3 separate regions of the Homo sapiens genome follow, and regions 1 and 3 are each linked to region 2. Evidence: fine-mapped expression QTL. A gene starts in region 2. Each other region holds a variant in brackets. All regions are shown on one strand. Distances are from middle to middle.

Region 1 (5,229 bases), 510 kb after region 2:
TCTCAGGCTCAGTAGGTCTGGAGTAGGGACTGAGAATTGGCATTTCTATCAATTTCCCAGGTGATGCTGCTGTTGGTCCACAGAACTCACTAAAGCCCCTTCATCTTCTTGATGTCCCTGCCTACCTGTTCATTCAACTGTCTTCAGCTTCTCCTTTTGGTGAGTGCTGTCTGTGTACCACCAGGACGTGGCTGATACACTTGGGTACCTTTTGCCAATTATTATGGAGATAAATGTATTCACTGCATCACAAAATAAATGGCAAAGCGACACGGCATTGTAAACGGCACTTGGCACAGTCCTTATCCAGCCCATACGCCCACACACGCAGGGGCTGTGCAGCCCTCAGCCTTACTGGCAGGAGTTCATCTGTTGGGGTGGATCTCCTTGGCCGAGAAGTAGGAACAAAATCAGGAGTGTGTAGTGTCACAGTAGCTAAGGGAAGAGCACCACTCCGAGGGTGGTGGGGATTTATTTATTTATTTTGAGAATAAGTCTTGCTCTTGTCCCCCAGGCTGGAGTACACTGGCGTGATCTCGGCCCACTGCAACCTCTGCCTCCTGGGTTCAAGCGATTCTCCGGCCTCAGCCTCCCAAGTAGCTGGGATCACAGGGGCCTGCCACCATGCCTGGCCAATTTTTGTATTTTTAGTAGAGACGGGGTTTCACTGTGTTGGCCAGGCTGGTCTCAAACTCCTGACCTCAGGTGATCCACCCGCCTCGGCCTCCCAAAGTGCTGGGATTACAGGCGTGAGCCACCACAGCTGGCCAGTGGTGGGGATATTAACCGGACCCTGTCATGGGATGATGGTGACATAGTGCTGCAGGGAGTGGAGCTGCCTTGGCTGCATGTGGATGGTCACAATGAGGTGCTCATTTGTATAACTAACTAGGGTTCAGGGGGCTTGATGCATTCATACAAAAGAAATAATCAGCAAATAAATAAAATATCTCTTAAGTCAATATGCCATGATATGCTTGCTATTTCATTTGGGTTATTATGCCTGGTTACATTTTTGCTGTGCCATTTCATTTCTTAGTCCATCATTTCCCATAGCTTTTTGCTCTTGATATCCAAGCAGAGTCCAGAAGAACTTTCTGCTATGTCAGATTCATGGACTAAACAAGGACAAGTGATGACAGGAATACACTTGAAGTATTCCCAAACAGTCAAAAAAAATGCAAAACAAAATGAATTCTAGGCCACCCTTTTATTTAACAATTTGTCCAGTTAGATCATCTGTGAATCAATTAGGTACAGCATGATTAGAATAAGTTCTGCAGCTTCATGCATGAACAGTCTTTCAATATGACCTTTGGGCTACTACTAAATGTCAGTTATTAATACACGGATGTGTTAATTTAGAAGCTAATTGCCCTTTTTCATATATGAGACCAAAATATGCAGGTGCATCTCTGCTGATTTAAAGGAACTCTGGAATATATATATTTGCAGTTTTTATACATAGTGATTATTAAGGAAAGTAACATTTTAAAAAAACCCACCATCTCAAACTATGATGATCATTACAATTGATGTATTATGTTTTCCAATAAAGTTTCCATTTTTACTACAGAGAAAATGGAGTACAGTAGCAAAAAGAGCAAATCTCTCTGCTCTCATAATGAATTTTTAAGGTTCTAAAGCAGTGAAAAGGTTCAGACAGACTAATGATCTTTGGACTTCAGGATTTCAACCTCTGACTTGGATTTGTTCTGCAGATGGAACATTCTATGTTGGTGAGAGCAGGAACATGGAAAAGTTGACATTAATAATTTTTATACTTCTTAAAAGAAATACTGGGTGATCCCCAAACACAGGGGGGCATTAAGTATTTTTCTATGCAGCCACAACTTCACAACTTTCACGGCCTTATCTGTACATACTTGCTGAAGATTGAATGAATGAGTCCCAGTGCTTACGCTGGAGGAAACCTAATCTGATGCCCACTTATTCGTGATTTAATTACTTATTTGGCCAACATTTTCTGTGTGTCTCTCAATTAGGCACTATGTCAGTCTGTGTGGGATAAGTAGGTTCTATTACCAACAACCAGTTTAAGTAGAATGATAACCATGTCTTGATTTTGAATAAACCAATTTTTAAAAGTTACATAGTAATAAAACTCAATTACTAGGTAAAGGGAATAGGATAAAGTCACCAAGGGCAAGTGTGTCCTGTAGACGGTCTCACATCTTACTTTTCCCCTTCCTCTTTGCCAAGAAAATGCCTGCGTGTGGTCCAAACCCCTTCTACTGATGAACTACAGCTGGGCAGGATATACCCTGTCATTCCTATGCACCCATCCAGCAACTCATCCATCTACCCATTTACTCATTTGTTCACTCAGAAATTATTTATTTCTGTTCTAGGCTCTGAGAATGTACCAATGACTGAAATGAACAAAAATGCATGTCTCACGGGCCATAGATTTTAGTGGGAGTGACGGACAACAACAAAACAATAAATGAGTACAAATGTAACATGTTACAATTGGTAAGTGCTTGCTACAGACAATGTCTGTGTCCCTCTCACATTTGTATGTTGAGATTCTAACCCCTACTGTGATTGTAGGAGGAGGCAGGGCCTTTCGGAGGTAATTAGGTCAGGAGGGTGGAGCCT[T/C]GTCAGTGTTCCACCAAAGTTTTGGCTTTTCCTCCCACAGTGTGAAGATGTTACTGGAAAAACACGGGCTCCTCCAGGGACTATATTTCCAGGTCTCCTTCACGTCTGGATAGGAACATTTGACGAGTTTTGCCACTGTCATGTGCATAGAAGTGACGTGTGTCATTTTCTGGCTTAAGGAGTGGGTATAAATTTCCACCTACTCATTCCCCACCCATGTGCTGAACACACTGGACTCCACAGCCCGGAGTTGCTGGGGGAGCCAAAAGACGTGTTTTGTTTCTTAGTCACCACATGGAGGAAAGTTGCTCGTGAATCAGGAACACTCACATAAATAAGAAATACATTTCTATTTTGATAAGACACTGAAGTTTTTTTTGTTGTTGTTATAGAAACTATAGAATAATTATAACTAATTTTGCAGAGGAAAAAAGGATAGGAGTTGCTGAGGAAGAAGGGGCTTCGCAATCTTGTAGTGTGGTCAGAGAAGGTCTTCATGGGAAGGTGGCCTTCACTTGGAGACCTGAAGGCGGCAGAGAGCAAGGCATATGGGTATCTAGCGGGAAAGCCTTTTTAGAAAGAGGAAACCGAATGTGCAGTGTGTGTAAGTGGAAGTTTCTCGGGAACATCAAGCGAAGCGAAATGGCTGGAGTGGTGTAAACCAGAGGGGTAGGGGCTGAGGTCAGAGAGGTCATGGGGAAGTGTAAAGGATGCAGGGCATGATAGCACTGTAAGTACTTTGGTTTTTAATCGAAGGGTGACGGGAAGCCATCAGGGGCTCTAAACAGAAGAGCAGTGACATGATCCGTTTAGCTAACAGGATTACTTTGGTCGCTGCGTTGAGGATAAACCGAAGAGGGAAAAGCAGAGAAAAGAAGAACTGTTAAGATGCTATTCCAATAATCCAGTAAGACACGATGGGCGCTTGCACTGAGGCGCTGCAGCAGAGGTGGGGAGAAGTGGGTGGAGTGTGGGTACATCAAGAAGGTAGCGCCAAGAGTAACTGCTGATGGATTGGCTGGGCACGTGAGAGGAAGAGAGGAACCTGTCATGACACAGTGATGGTTTGCTTTGTGTGTCAAAGATCAGCTAGAATGTGGTGTCTGTTATTTGGCCAAACACTAGTCTAGAGGTTGTTATGAAGGTATTTTGTGGATGTGACTAACATGTGCAATCATTTGATTTTAAATAAAGCAGATTATTACCCTCTCTAATGTGGGTGGGCTTCTTCCAATCAGCTGAAGGCCTGAAGAGCAAGAAATGGCCATGGGCGGTGGCTCACACCTGTAATCCCAACACTTTGGGAGGCCGAGGCGGGTGGATCACGAGTTCAAGAGATCAAGACCATCCTGGCCAATATGGTGAAACCCTGTCTCTACTAAAAATACAAAATTAGCCGGATGTGGTGGCACGCACCTGTAGTCCCAGCTACTCGGGAGGCTGAGATAGGAGAATCGCCTGAATCTGGGATGTGGAGGTTGTAGTGAGCTGAGATCACATCATTGCACTCCAGCCTGAATGACAGAGCGAAACTGTCTCAAAAAAAACCAAAAAACAAAAACTGAAGTTTCTCTCTCTTTCCTTCCACATGTGTGTACATATATATACATGTATGTTTATGTATATTTATATATGGCATATGTGTATCTATATGTTAGCAGGGAAGAGGGAGCCCACGATGTAATTTCCCCCCAGTTGCCACAAGAATGGCCATGTCTGTTCAATTCCTGACTGTGGCCTCCTCTCTTGATTTGATCTATGTGAGGAAGCCCCGTCTCCCTCCAGAAGCCTATGCTATTACTGTGCTCTGCAACAATTTTTTTAAAGCTCTTGCACCCTTTCTTCCCAGGAAATCCTACAAAGAAAGCTAATATGTAAACATGTAAAAGGAGAAGCATCACCCTAGGTTGAAAGCGGAAGTGGTAGGCCTCTGTCCTATCTGTTCCTCTCCACTCCACCCTCTCAGCCCATAGAAGTTCCCAAGGTAGCTTGGTGGCTCTCTGAGCCCAGCTTGACAACCACTGTCTTATGGAAGAGATCCTCTGACAGGTTTCCTGGGGATCAGCATGGTGGAACCCACACTCCCCACTTAGGTAAGACCCTTGTTCACCTGCAGCCATCTCAGCTGAACTGCAGCGAATCCCTTTTTCCATGTCAAATTAGCATGTATTGGGATATCCTCTTTTCATCAACTTGATCATTCGATGGAAACTGACTACTGATGTCCCTCATGAAGATTGATTAGTCTTTCAATCCCATGTTTAGCTATGATTAGCACATCAGTGTTTATTTTCACTGCAGAGTAAATGCATACCAGGTATTTATACCTATAATGAGGTGAACTAGTATTAAGGTGCAATATTAATTATGTAATAATTACAATAAAAAATTTAGGTCACGAAAATTCATTTTTCAACTTTCTCGTTTGCTATGCCCGCATGCCTCCCTTCTGCTGCTGATGCAGAGAAAATTTTGACGGCTAAATCCCATTAGAATTAATGTGACTTACTCCTGTAAATCTCAAGGGGACAAATAAGAAATAAACAACCTCATGTTTTCAGAGATAGGTCTCACAATATTTATATAAGTCTGTTAGTAGAATACATA
Region 2 (5,229 bases):
AGTTATTTAACATAAGATATATTTGTTTACTATTAGAAAAAAATCTTTGATTAAGAGGAATAATAAAATTCGTGTAAGAAAAAAAGAACAAGATTGTTAAGGGAAATGCAACAGGAAGAGATACAGACAATCCTGAAATACACAATAGAATAACTAAACTCATTATAAACTCCTATCTTTGAAGAATTTAGGAATAATTTGTGAATGCCATGACATTTTAAAGTGGGATTAGCAAGTCTTATTACTGAACTAACCTCTCACTCTTAGATCAAGAATTAAATATTTACTCTGCATTTAGAATTACAAATCCAAACTTTCAGGGCTCATACAAGAATTTTATATATTAAGATATACATGCTCGAAGTTTTAGATAATTAAAAGTGTATTAAGGAATGCACAAAGCAAGATTGTTGAATTTATAAAATCTTGTTTTAATTGAAATATTAAAATAGATAATTATTATTACACAGTTGCTCTTAATTCTAAAGTCAGTCTGTTCTCAATATATTAATACATAAAGACTACAAATACTTCTCCAAGTAGGCAGTGGGGAAAAAGGGATATGCGTCATTATTTTAAAGAAATTCACTAAGGGATCAAATCACCAAGTTCTGTTCAGTTACAATACCATCTTTTGGGATACTCTTCCAAGCTTTCCAGAGATGCCATATCCACCTTTTTTCTTTTGACAAGAGAAGGGAAAGGTAATGCCTCAACATATGTCTATTTCTAGTGAAAAGACCACCCAGTGGATTCTGCCAGAGTCTACCAATGTTTGACAAAATACATTGTCAGAAGATAAGAAATAGAGCATGATGAAGAGACAGTCCTGTTCTCGGGCATCCCAGCCGTCTGGGGCCCTGTAAAAAGTCTAGGACAGCTCTCAGCCTTTCATTTCCATTGCACCTCCTCACACGTACCTGGAAACTTTTCTCTACCTCCAAATTACAGTGACTTGGGGAAACACACGTGTGTGATGTATTACACGGTACAAGTACTTGTTACCCTCTCTCTACAATAAAAATTAACAAGTTACCACTCCAGCTACCTTAAAGGTGAGGCAGTAAGAATGGAATCCAAGCTGCATAGTAAGATGCTCAGCAAAGATCAATCAGACACAACCCGCCTCAACCTAAAATACGTGAAGCTCTTTGTAATCGGTTGTAAAACACGAGAGGGACTTAGAATCTCAGTTGCAGGCTCATAAATTCGTAATTTTTGAAACGCCCAGCTCAGGATATTTTGTGTGTGTTTCCAACCCCATCCAGAGTTTCCCGATCAAGTTTCAGCCGTGATCCACCACTCCCCACGCTACCCCTCGCCCCGCACTCTCCCTCCTTCACTCCTTTTCAACTTGGCTCCCTGATCGCTGCAGAAGCCTTCTGTCCCCTGCCTGCCCCGGAAAGCGGTGACATCCCGGGGCTTTCCGCTCGCTGGAAGCCCCCCAGGATCCTGTTAAGACGCCCCCGCAGAAGACGCGGGGCCTCGCCACACATCGGGGGCCGAAGAGGACCTGGCGGGCTCCCCTCCCCGCCCCCACTGGGCGCCCAGCCTCCGGACTGCCTTCCTCAGGGACCCCGGGGCTCCCCAGTACGGGGGCGCGGCGCCTGGCTCCCCGGGCGAGAGGCGCCGGCGAAGTTCCCACCTGAGCCGGCGGCCGGAGGTGGCTGGCGCGAGGGCGGGGCGGGGACGGGGAGGCCGGACCGTGGAGAGAATCCGCGCGCTGAGAAGATGTCCCCGCGTCCGCCGCCTCCCGGGGCCACGCGCCGTCCCAGCTCGCGCCCGCCAGCTCCCGGCGCCGCGGCCCGGCACTAGGACCCCATAAAGGAAGGAGGGCGCGCCGGCGGCGGCGCCGCACTTACCGCGCTCGGCTCGCCCGCGCCGCCGGCTCGCTCCCCGGCAGCAGCCGCCGCGTCCGCCCGAGCCGCGCGCACACCGCGCCGGGCCAAATTCAAAGGAGCCGGGCGCGGGGGAGGGGGGCCCCGCCGAGGGAGCGGGGAGCGGGCGCCGGCGGGGCGGGGGCGGGGAGGGGGCGCGAGTGTTACAACTTCCTTCCCTGCCCGCCCCCGGCCGCGCGGCCCGGGGACGCGGGAGGGGAGGGCGCCCGCGCGCCAATGAGTTCACTTTCTTTCTCTCCCCCGCGCTCCCCCTCTCCCCGCCCGCCGGCCCCTCCAGCCTCCTCCAAGGCGGCGGACCAGGCCGGGCCGGAGTTTTCGGGGTTCAGCCCGCGAGCGGGAGGACCGGGGAGGCGAGGGAGGAGGAAGGCGAGAAGGGCCAGGTGAGGAGGCCCGCGGGACGCCCGGCCAGGGAGCGGCATCCAGGACCGTAATTGTGCGGCGGGGGACGCGCCGGGCCGAGTGTGCCCGAGCCCGGGCGCGTACACGTGTCCGTGTGTGTGTGTGTGTGTGTGTGTGCGGGAGTGTGCGAGGGAGAGGAGGAGAGGAGAGGAGCCTACCATGCGCTTCCCCCGGTGCAGATCGCGGGAGAGCCCAATCACGGGGCGAGCTGGACCTGGCTGTGATCATTTATAATCCTTGACTCCTCCGCTCCGCCACTTGTCAAGATGACAGGTACTTTATTTCTTCTTCTTCTTTATTCAAAAAAAGAGATTCCCCGTTTACTGCCTTTTTCTGTCAAATGGGATTTGCCGGACTGAACCACGTTCGCCGCCCCTCCCTCCTTCCCTCCTCCCGGCCGCGTCGGGTTCGGGAAAGCACCGAGGCTCCCATGCTGTGACCAATCAGTGCCTTTACTACTCTCGCCGTGATTTAGGGGTCATCCGTGAATAACACTTCACGCTGATGAATGGCTCTTGCCGGCTTTCGGCTCTGATGAGGGGTCTGCCCGCCGCCGATTGAAAACACTAATGAACTTACTGCGCCATTTGAAATTCACACGCACCAACAAAATGGGGGTACGTGCGTGGGGGTCTGTCCTTTTCTGCTGCGGGTGGCGGGGAGGCGGCCCTGGGGGAGGGGGCGGGTAATTGCTTTGGACTTAAGTGGAAACACTTCTCTGTGTAATCAAACCTCTAACCTTCTTAGAAAACTACTTTTCTTGATCTTCCGTAGGGTGGGCATTTCAGGTCAGCTGAGTCACCCGAGGAGGTGGCAGTGCAAGACACTGCCGGGAAGACGGATTCCGAGGCAGAAGGGTGTAATTAAGGATTTCCACCCCCGGTAGGCGGCCCGTCCTTTGCAGAGCCTCTGAAAATGACCCGCGCCTTCCTTTCCACAGTGTTCTTTCGTCCGAGACCGAAAAGCGCAAATGACCTTTGGACAGGGAAGGGAGGCAGTAAACACTCAGACTTCCTTACCAGCCCCTGGTGGGCACTGCAGCAGAACAATTGTCTGCCCCCCAGGTTCAAGCACCTAGGCCTCCGCCCCGCATCACCTGGCCAGGGGCGGACCCGGGAGTCCTCCGAAGGCTCCACTCCCCACTTTTACTACTCTTCTTTCCTCTCCATTCTCCCCTCAGATTAGCGGCCGGACACTGTCCCTGCCTCGATTTTGTTTGCTGTGGGAGGGAAAAAAAAAGTTTGCTGCTCCTCCCAAGACACTGGCCACTTTCTACTCACTGAAGTTCCCACCGCAGCGCTGGCTCCCGGCTCCCTAGCTCCCGCCCCCTGTCTGCAGGAAAGCCCTCCCCCGGAGCTTCCGAAACTGCTGGAGGTTCCAGAGTTTTGTAGCTCCGAATGGGCGACCTGAGCCGAACCGCTCTCTGGCTGGGTGGTCGGCGGGATCCTTCAGGCTCCTTTCGGGTCCGGGACGGGGCGGCGGCAGAGGTGGGGCGTGCGTGCTTGGGGCTGCCGAGTGAGTGCGGCTCCCTGGTGCGCGCCCGAGCATCTCCCCGCCCTCTCCTGGGACCAGCAGTCTGCCCGTGGAGGGCTAGGAGCCCGCGACCAGGCCTGCCCCGGCCGTCGCCAACCTGTCCTTGGAAGCGTGGCGGAGACTGGTGCGCTCTCAGCCTCGTCGCGCCAGCCGCCTCGCGCCACCCTCCACTTTCAGCTTCAGAGCAGAGGATTCCGCCGACCTCCACCTGTACCTGTACTCGGCCGTTAGGAAATCCACTTGCATTTTTAACTACCGTGCAGAACCAGAAACAGATCGAGCACTGGGAGAACAAGGACGACGCCTCCTAGGAAAGCCTGAACCTTTATGTTAGTTTATCCAAAGTTTGGGCTAGAAGTGAGGAGAATCCCTAAACTCGAGGTGGTGTGCCCAGACCCACAGCCCGTGTTCCCGAAGTTGCTAAGTGCCCGAGCGCAGCGCGTTAAGTAGAGAAGTCTTGGTAGTAAGCGAACCCGACCCGGCTCTCGGGGCGCTAGTGACGGAAAGCAGCACGCATATCTTTGCGGGAAGAATCTAGAGTCGCCCTGGGATAGATCCATCTCCTTCTGCCACTGAATTTCACACTTGAAAAAGATAAGGTCATGGGGGCGGATGAATGATATCCCTCACTCATTTAGCCATTCTTATTATTATATAAAAAAAAGGCTTGTCAATTATGAAGGTGTGTCCCAGATATTACATGAAGATCATGCAAACTACTTGAAATTTGAATCCGGACATGATCGTAAGGAAACTCTTTCATAAAGCACTTTTGTGGCCTAGTTCCCACACACACACAAAAGTATTAGGTCTTTAAAACTTTTCCAAGTAGTAAGTGAGACTCCCTCTTACTGTCTACGAATACACAATAAAGAGATGAGACACTGCCCCAATCCTAAAGAGGCCAGAACTGAAGTGCTACATTGTGTGAGTTAGGGGATGCTTCTTTTTTCCAGCTCTTTTTTCTAGAATCCTCATTACAGCTAACGCTGGTAATAAAGGTAGGAAAACAATAGAACTCATAAAACTTAGAAATGGTAATAAATCTTGGCTCCTGTCTCTAGCCCAGTTCCTTCTTACATGAGATTCAAAGTTTTTCAGTATGCAATGCTGAACGTTCACACTATGGTTGCAAAATAGAAAAAAATACTCTAGAACTCATTAATACGGCCCTGCGCACTCTATGCCAGGCGTCGCTGGTGGACAAAGCGCGCAGGGGTCCTCCTCTACGTCTGCCTGCGCCTGTAATCCAGGCAGCTTACGTGTGTTAAATTTGGGTCTCTCTCTGTCTCTCACACAAAGAAGTTCCATCATTTGAGGCCGTTAGGAAAAGCTGATGTTGTGCAGTGCCAAACTACCACACGCTTCCTCCTTCGGATGAATCCCTGGAAAGCAGAGA
Region 3 (5,229 bases), 20 kb before region 2:
TCTGTCACAAAAGAAAAAGAAAAGAAAAGAGAAGAAAAGAAATAAATGTCAAAATCTATCATAAAACTACTCAAAATATTACCTGCATACTATGGGCAATTTTGCTAAATGTGATGTAGTTTGGGGTGAACTGACACAAAGATCCGCTTGGCAGCTGCAAAATGATACCCAAATCTACACCAGTTGATGATGCCATGAAAAATTCAAGATGAAATTTTAAGATTTACCTGTGCAGAATGGCCATGACTGAGGTGCCAAGCTTCAATCTCATGGCAGAAGCCCAGGGGGCCCTCCAGACACACTGTTTTCCTCCCTGCTCTTCCCTCAATCATATCGTCAATGCTGAAGTCCCTAAGAATGGCTTTAGAAAAAGGTGCTATGACATTATCTGCCTTTATAGTTTCCTATGGAAAGCTGCAAATGTGCCTGAACAGAGTTTTAAAGCATGCTCTTTGACGATGTCTCTGAGAAGGTATCTTTACGAAACAGCCACATTAAATTTGGTAGTCTTTACCAACGGGACAACGGAGTAACCTGGGTCAACATACATAAACGCACATTTTAAAAAACTGCTTTTACAGGCCGGGTGCGGTGGCTCACGCCTGTAATCCCAGCACTTTGGGAGGCCGAGGCGGGCAGATCATGAGGTCAGGAGATCGAGACCATCCTGGCTAATGCGGTGAAACCCCGTCTCTACTAAAAAGACAAAAAATTAGACTGGCGTGGTGGCACACGCCTGTAATCCCAGCTACTCGTCGAGAAGCTGAGGCAGGAGAATCGCTTGAACCTGGGAGATGGAGGTTGTAGTGAGCCGAGAGCACGCCACTGCACTCCAGCCTGGATGACAGAGCGAGACTCTCTCAAAAAAACAAAAAACTGCTTTTACACCTGCCCTGCTTCACCCCCCAAAAAAGAGTGAAAGGGGAGTCACTCAGTGTGCATTTTAGGTTTCCACCCAATGTGCTGCATGCTGCAATAACAGAATAACTTAAGGGACCCATGGAAGCTGTATACATATTTTCTAAAAGTCCCAGAGTTCCTGATGGAAAGTTGGTTTTCTAAGTAGTGCAAGGAGATATCTGTTTAGCCTGTTCCTCCCAGCTGATGACTATGTGTGCCTAAGCCTCAGTTAACCGCTGACTCAGATAGCTCTCTAGCAGCTCAGGAACACGACGGAACGTGTAAGAAAAATTTGCTAGGATGTTAAACCATAGAGGCAGCCACAAATCAGAAGTCAGCTTGCTTATCAACCTGAAGTCTTTCCAAAGTGAGAAGTGAACATGGGTCAAATAAAAGGAAATTATAAAGTAACTTTTTGGTCCTCAGCAAATTCCTAAATATAATGCATAATCTCAGCCCTAATGCATCCTTACAACATAGCTGGAATGGAACTCCGAAAATAATGAAATAAGTATTGATCATAGAATCACTTCACTACCTACTAGTAAGTCCTGAGGAGAAATGAGGGATCTGAGTTTCCCTGGAGTAGATGATGCCTGAGAAGGGACTTGAAGGATGACCAGATTTAAACCAGTGGCTTCTCAACCCTGACTGTGCCTTACAAACACTAGGGAGGCTTTTAAAACTTATTTCCTATGTCTAGAGATTCTGAATTAATTAGTTTGGGGCAAAATCCTGGCATTAGTGTTCTCTGCAAGCTCCCTGGTGATTCTAAGATGTAGCTATGGTTAAAAGTACTGAAGACACAAAGAGTAGAGAGGAGTATCTCATTTCCAAAATGGGAAAGAATGAAATATTCAATGATAGAACAGCAGAACTTCTACCTTCAAGGAGGTTAAAATCCTTGAGGGAAAAAAGAACCCAGAGACTCTGGAACTAGCGGTCTGAAGTAGGTTTTTAGAACCCTGGGACTTTTTTTCATTTGCTCATTCAACCAATAAATATTCATCCAGGACTATGTATGAGGTGCTATGTCACGCAACCAGTTAAACAAAAGGGAGCAAAACAAACAAGGTCCCTGGTTTTAGGGGCATGACAATCAAGTGGAAAAGAAAGACACATATCATGTCTTCCATTATGTATTATGTTTTATGCACTGTTTTAAGCAAGGGATGACAGGATCCTCTTTGCGTTCTTAAAAGATCAATTTGAGGTGTG[G/C]AGAATGAGTTGGAGGAGGAGCTCCACAGAATGTCAATTAAGTCAACATGGAAGTCACCGTGCAAATCCAGTCCAGATGCCAAGGGAGCTTGGACTAGAATGGCAGGGGTGGAAGACAAATGGAAGCATGATGATTTTGAGATACTTAGAAAGCAATATTAACTAGACAATGTGATGAGTGGGATTGAGGTGAAGAAAGGACCAAGGACCAGTTCAAGGTTGCTGGCTTGGTAACTTGATGGACAGTTCCTTTCCTGTACTGAATGTGGGCCACCCAGGAAAGATGAGGTTTGCAGGAAAAGATTATGGATTCAGATCCATGTTAGTTTTGGGAGCCTGAGACATGCAAGAGCATACGTGAAATGGTTCAGTATACCAGGATGACCGAAGGTGCCTGCTGGCTCTGGATGCTCCAGTTAATGCTAGTTGTCCTGGCATCCTGTCATTTGGTGATTTGGTGCTCACTGTCACTCTCACAGGGTCCCTGTTTGGATGATAGGTTAGAAGGTCCCCCTGGATACTCATATCTGGAGCTAGAAGTTTTGAGTGGAATATTTGTGAACTGCCTGTTTATGAGTGAACACTGAAGCCATGGGAATCTATGACATTGCAAGAGCTGGGACAGTGGATACAGTGTGAAGGCAGAGGGTCTAAGGGCTTGTTTCTGAGGAACCCTAGTATTTGCAGACCAACTAGAAGAGGACAGATACCAAGAAAGTAGAGAGGCAGTTGCTGAGATGTCACAGAGCAAAGGAAATCAAGCTCTTCTTGGGCAATGATGCTGAGATCAAACTCAAGGACAACTGAAAAGTAGACTCTGGGAGGGCTACACGTTTATCCTCAGTTGTGCCACATTTACAATAAGAGGCTCTGCCTGTATGATCTCTAAATTCCTTCCTACTCCTAGAACCCTTGAATTCTAATAAACTAAAAGTGCAGCATGAGGTAAATGCTAAATAGATGTAGAAACACTATAGCAGCATGGGGGCAGAAAGAGAGAGGGAGATGAGTACCTAATTCTACTGAGCAAATCAAGGACAATTTCACAGAGAATGTTTAACCTGACACAGAAAGTGGGAAGACTCGCCTCGTGCTTGGAAATGCTAACTAAATCCCCTTGTGTGAGGCACACTGTACCTAAGAGATGGGAGGCGGGGCTGGAAGGGGCCTGGCCAGATCAGGAGGTATGGATCTCGGCTTCCATGCTGAGTTTGGGCTTCTTCGTGACAAGATCGGTTCAGGATTTTAGGAGGCAAACTCTCCAGGGGCAATCTAGAAAAATGGATTGGAGAGACGAAAGACGGGTGGCAGGAGGCCCAGTTAGAAGACATTCTGTGCAATTAAGATGAGGGATGAGAGCCCTAGAGAGGAAACTGCCAGTGAGGATGGAAAGGAGGGGCAAGGACCAGAAACTCTGAAATAAGAATGAGCAGGACGTAATGACTGATTAGTACAGGTAGTGAGGGATGGAGCCGTCTTGAAGATGGCTCTTAAGCTTCCAGCATGTGTGAACAAACAGGATAATGGGATAATGTACAAATACAGGAGAAGGGGCAGCTTTGCTCCTCAGGCCTGAGAGAAGAGTGACTGCTATGCTTTGATTATTTGTGTCCCTCCGAAGTTCATATTGAAAGTTAATCTCCAGTGCAACAGTATGAAGAGGGGCCTTTCGACGGGAATTAGGCCGCGAAGGCTCTGCTCTCATGGATGGAATTAGTGTCATAAAAGAGCAGGAGGGACTAGCTAAGCCCTTTTTGCACTTCCATCCTTTGTGCAACATGAGGACACAGAGCTTGTCTCCTCTGGAGGATGCAGTATTTGAGGCAACATCTCAGAAGCAGAGCAAGGTGCTGGAACACTGAGTCTGCCAGCACCTTGATCTTGGACTTCCCAGCCTCCAAACTGAAAAATAAATTTCTATTGTCTATAAACTGTCTAGTCTCAGGTGTCTTGTTACAGCAGCATGAACAGGCTAAGAGAGTGTTCAGAATACCAACTTGGAAATGATGAGGTTGAGATGGCACTGGAACAAACCCCACCCTATACATTCCTCTCTCTTCCTTGAGTTCCGAGTGCACAGTTTGTATTCCACATCTTCAGACTTAATCCTAGCTCACAGTGTTAGTTTGTCTAATTATTACACATTTCTTTGGAGCTTCTAAAATAGATGTCTTCTTCTATTTTTGTACCCCTTTCTTCACAGAGCCTAAGCCAATGTTGGGCTCAAAATAGGTGTTTAATAAATGATAACTGAACACATTAGAGCTGAAAAACAAAAAGGACTTATTTTCACTGGAGCCAACTAACATTTCAAAGACAAATGTTTAAAATTTGCTTTCAGCAAAATATTAAGAAATTCGCCAGGTGTGGTAGCTTGCCTGTAATCCCAGCAACTCAAGAGACTGAGGCAGGAGGACTGCTTGAGCCCATGAGTTTGAGGACAGCCTGCACAACATAGCAAGACATTGATTTTGTTTGTTTGTTTTAAAAAAGAAAGAAATCCATTGAACCGACTAATACATTAGTGGATGTATGTTTGCATCATATATATATATATATATATATATATATATATATATACACACACACACACAAATATATATATGTGTATATATATACACATACATGTGTGTGTATATATACACATATATGTGTGTATATATATACACATATATACACATATATATTTGTGTATATATACACATATATATGTGTATATATATACATATATATGTGTATATATATACATATATTTGTGTATATATATATACACATATATATGTATATATATACACATATATTTGTGTATATATATATACACATATATATGTATATATATACATATATATTTGTGTATATATATACATATATATATTTGTGTGTGTGTATATATATATATACATATATATATTTGTATATATATATACATATATATATATGTATATATATATTTGGACTGAGCCTCAACTCTGTTGCCCAGGCTGGAGTGCAGTGGCGTGATCTCGGCTCATTGCAACCTCCACCTCCCAGGTTCAAGCAATTCTTGTGCCTCAGCATCCCGAGTAGTTGGGATTACAGGTGTGCGCCACCACGCCCAGCTAATTTTTTTTT

Which allele goes with the higher level. Alleles are on the strand shown, and positions count from the first base shown. SD is a standard deviation of normalised expression in the study named. Not every link is listed here.
For the expression in fibroblasts of the gene that starts at base 2,102 in region 2, allele T in region 1 goes with a higher level than allele C (small effect, 0.39 SD a copy in GTEx).

The links. PIP is the estimated chance that this variant, and not a neighbour inherited with it, causes the effect. A credible set is the group of variants that fine-mapping cannot tell apart.
Region 1: its variant is the best candidate, but not a certain one, in a credible set for the expression of TENM3-AS1 in fibroblasts (GTEx, PIP 0.89).
Region 3: its variant is the best candidate, but not a certain one, in a credible set for the expression of TENM3-AS1 in fibroblasts (GTEx, PIP 0.89).

What each region holds. Positions count from the first base shown.
Region 1 is chr4:181,634,998-181,640,226 of GRCh38, reverse strand. It overlaps a transcript of TENM3 not described here. Among named protein-coding and RNA genes, the nearest start is that of TENM3-AS2, 190 kb to the left of the region's middle. The variant T/C (reference allele first, on the strand shown) is at 2,623.
Region 2 is chr4:182,141,388-182,146,616 of GRCh38, reverse strand. TENM3-AS1 (TENM3 antisense RNA 1) reads left to right here and starts at 2,102. Exons shown (of 5, transcript NR_125905.1): 1 at 2,102-2,278; 2 at 2,477-2,570; 3 at 2,773-2,914; 4 at 3,072-3,179; 5 at 5,133-5,229. It also overlaps a transcript of TENM3 not described here. RefSeq lists enhancers at 857-1,845, 4,800-5,229.
Region 3 is chr4:182,161,429-182,166,657 of GRCh38, reverse strand. It overlaps a transcript of TENM3 not described here. Among named protein-coding and RNA genes, the nearest start is that of MIR1305, 5.2 kb to the left of the region's middle. The variant G/C (reference allele first, on the strand shown) is at 2,119.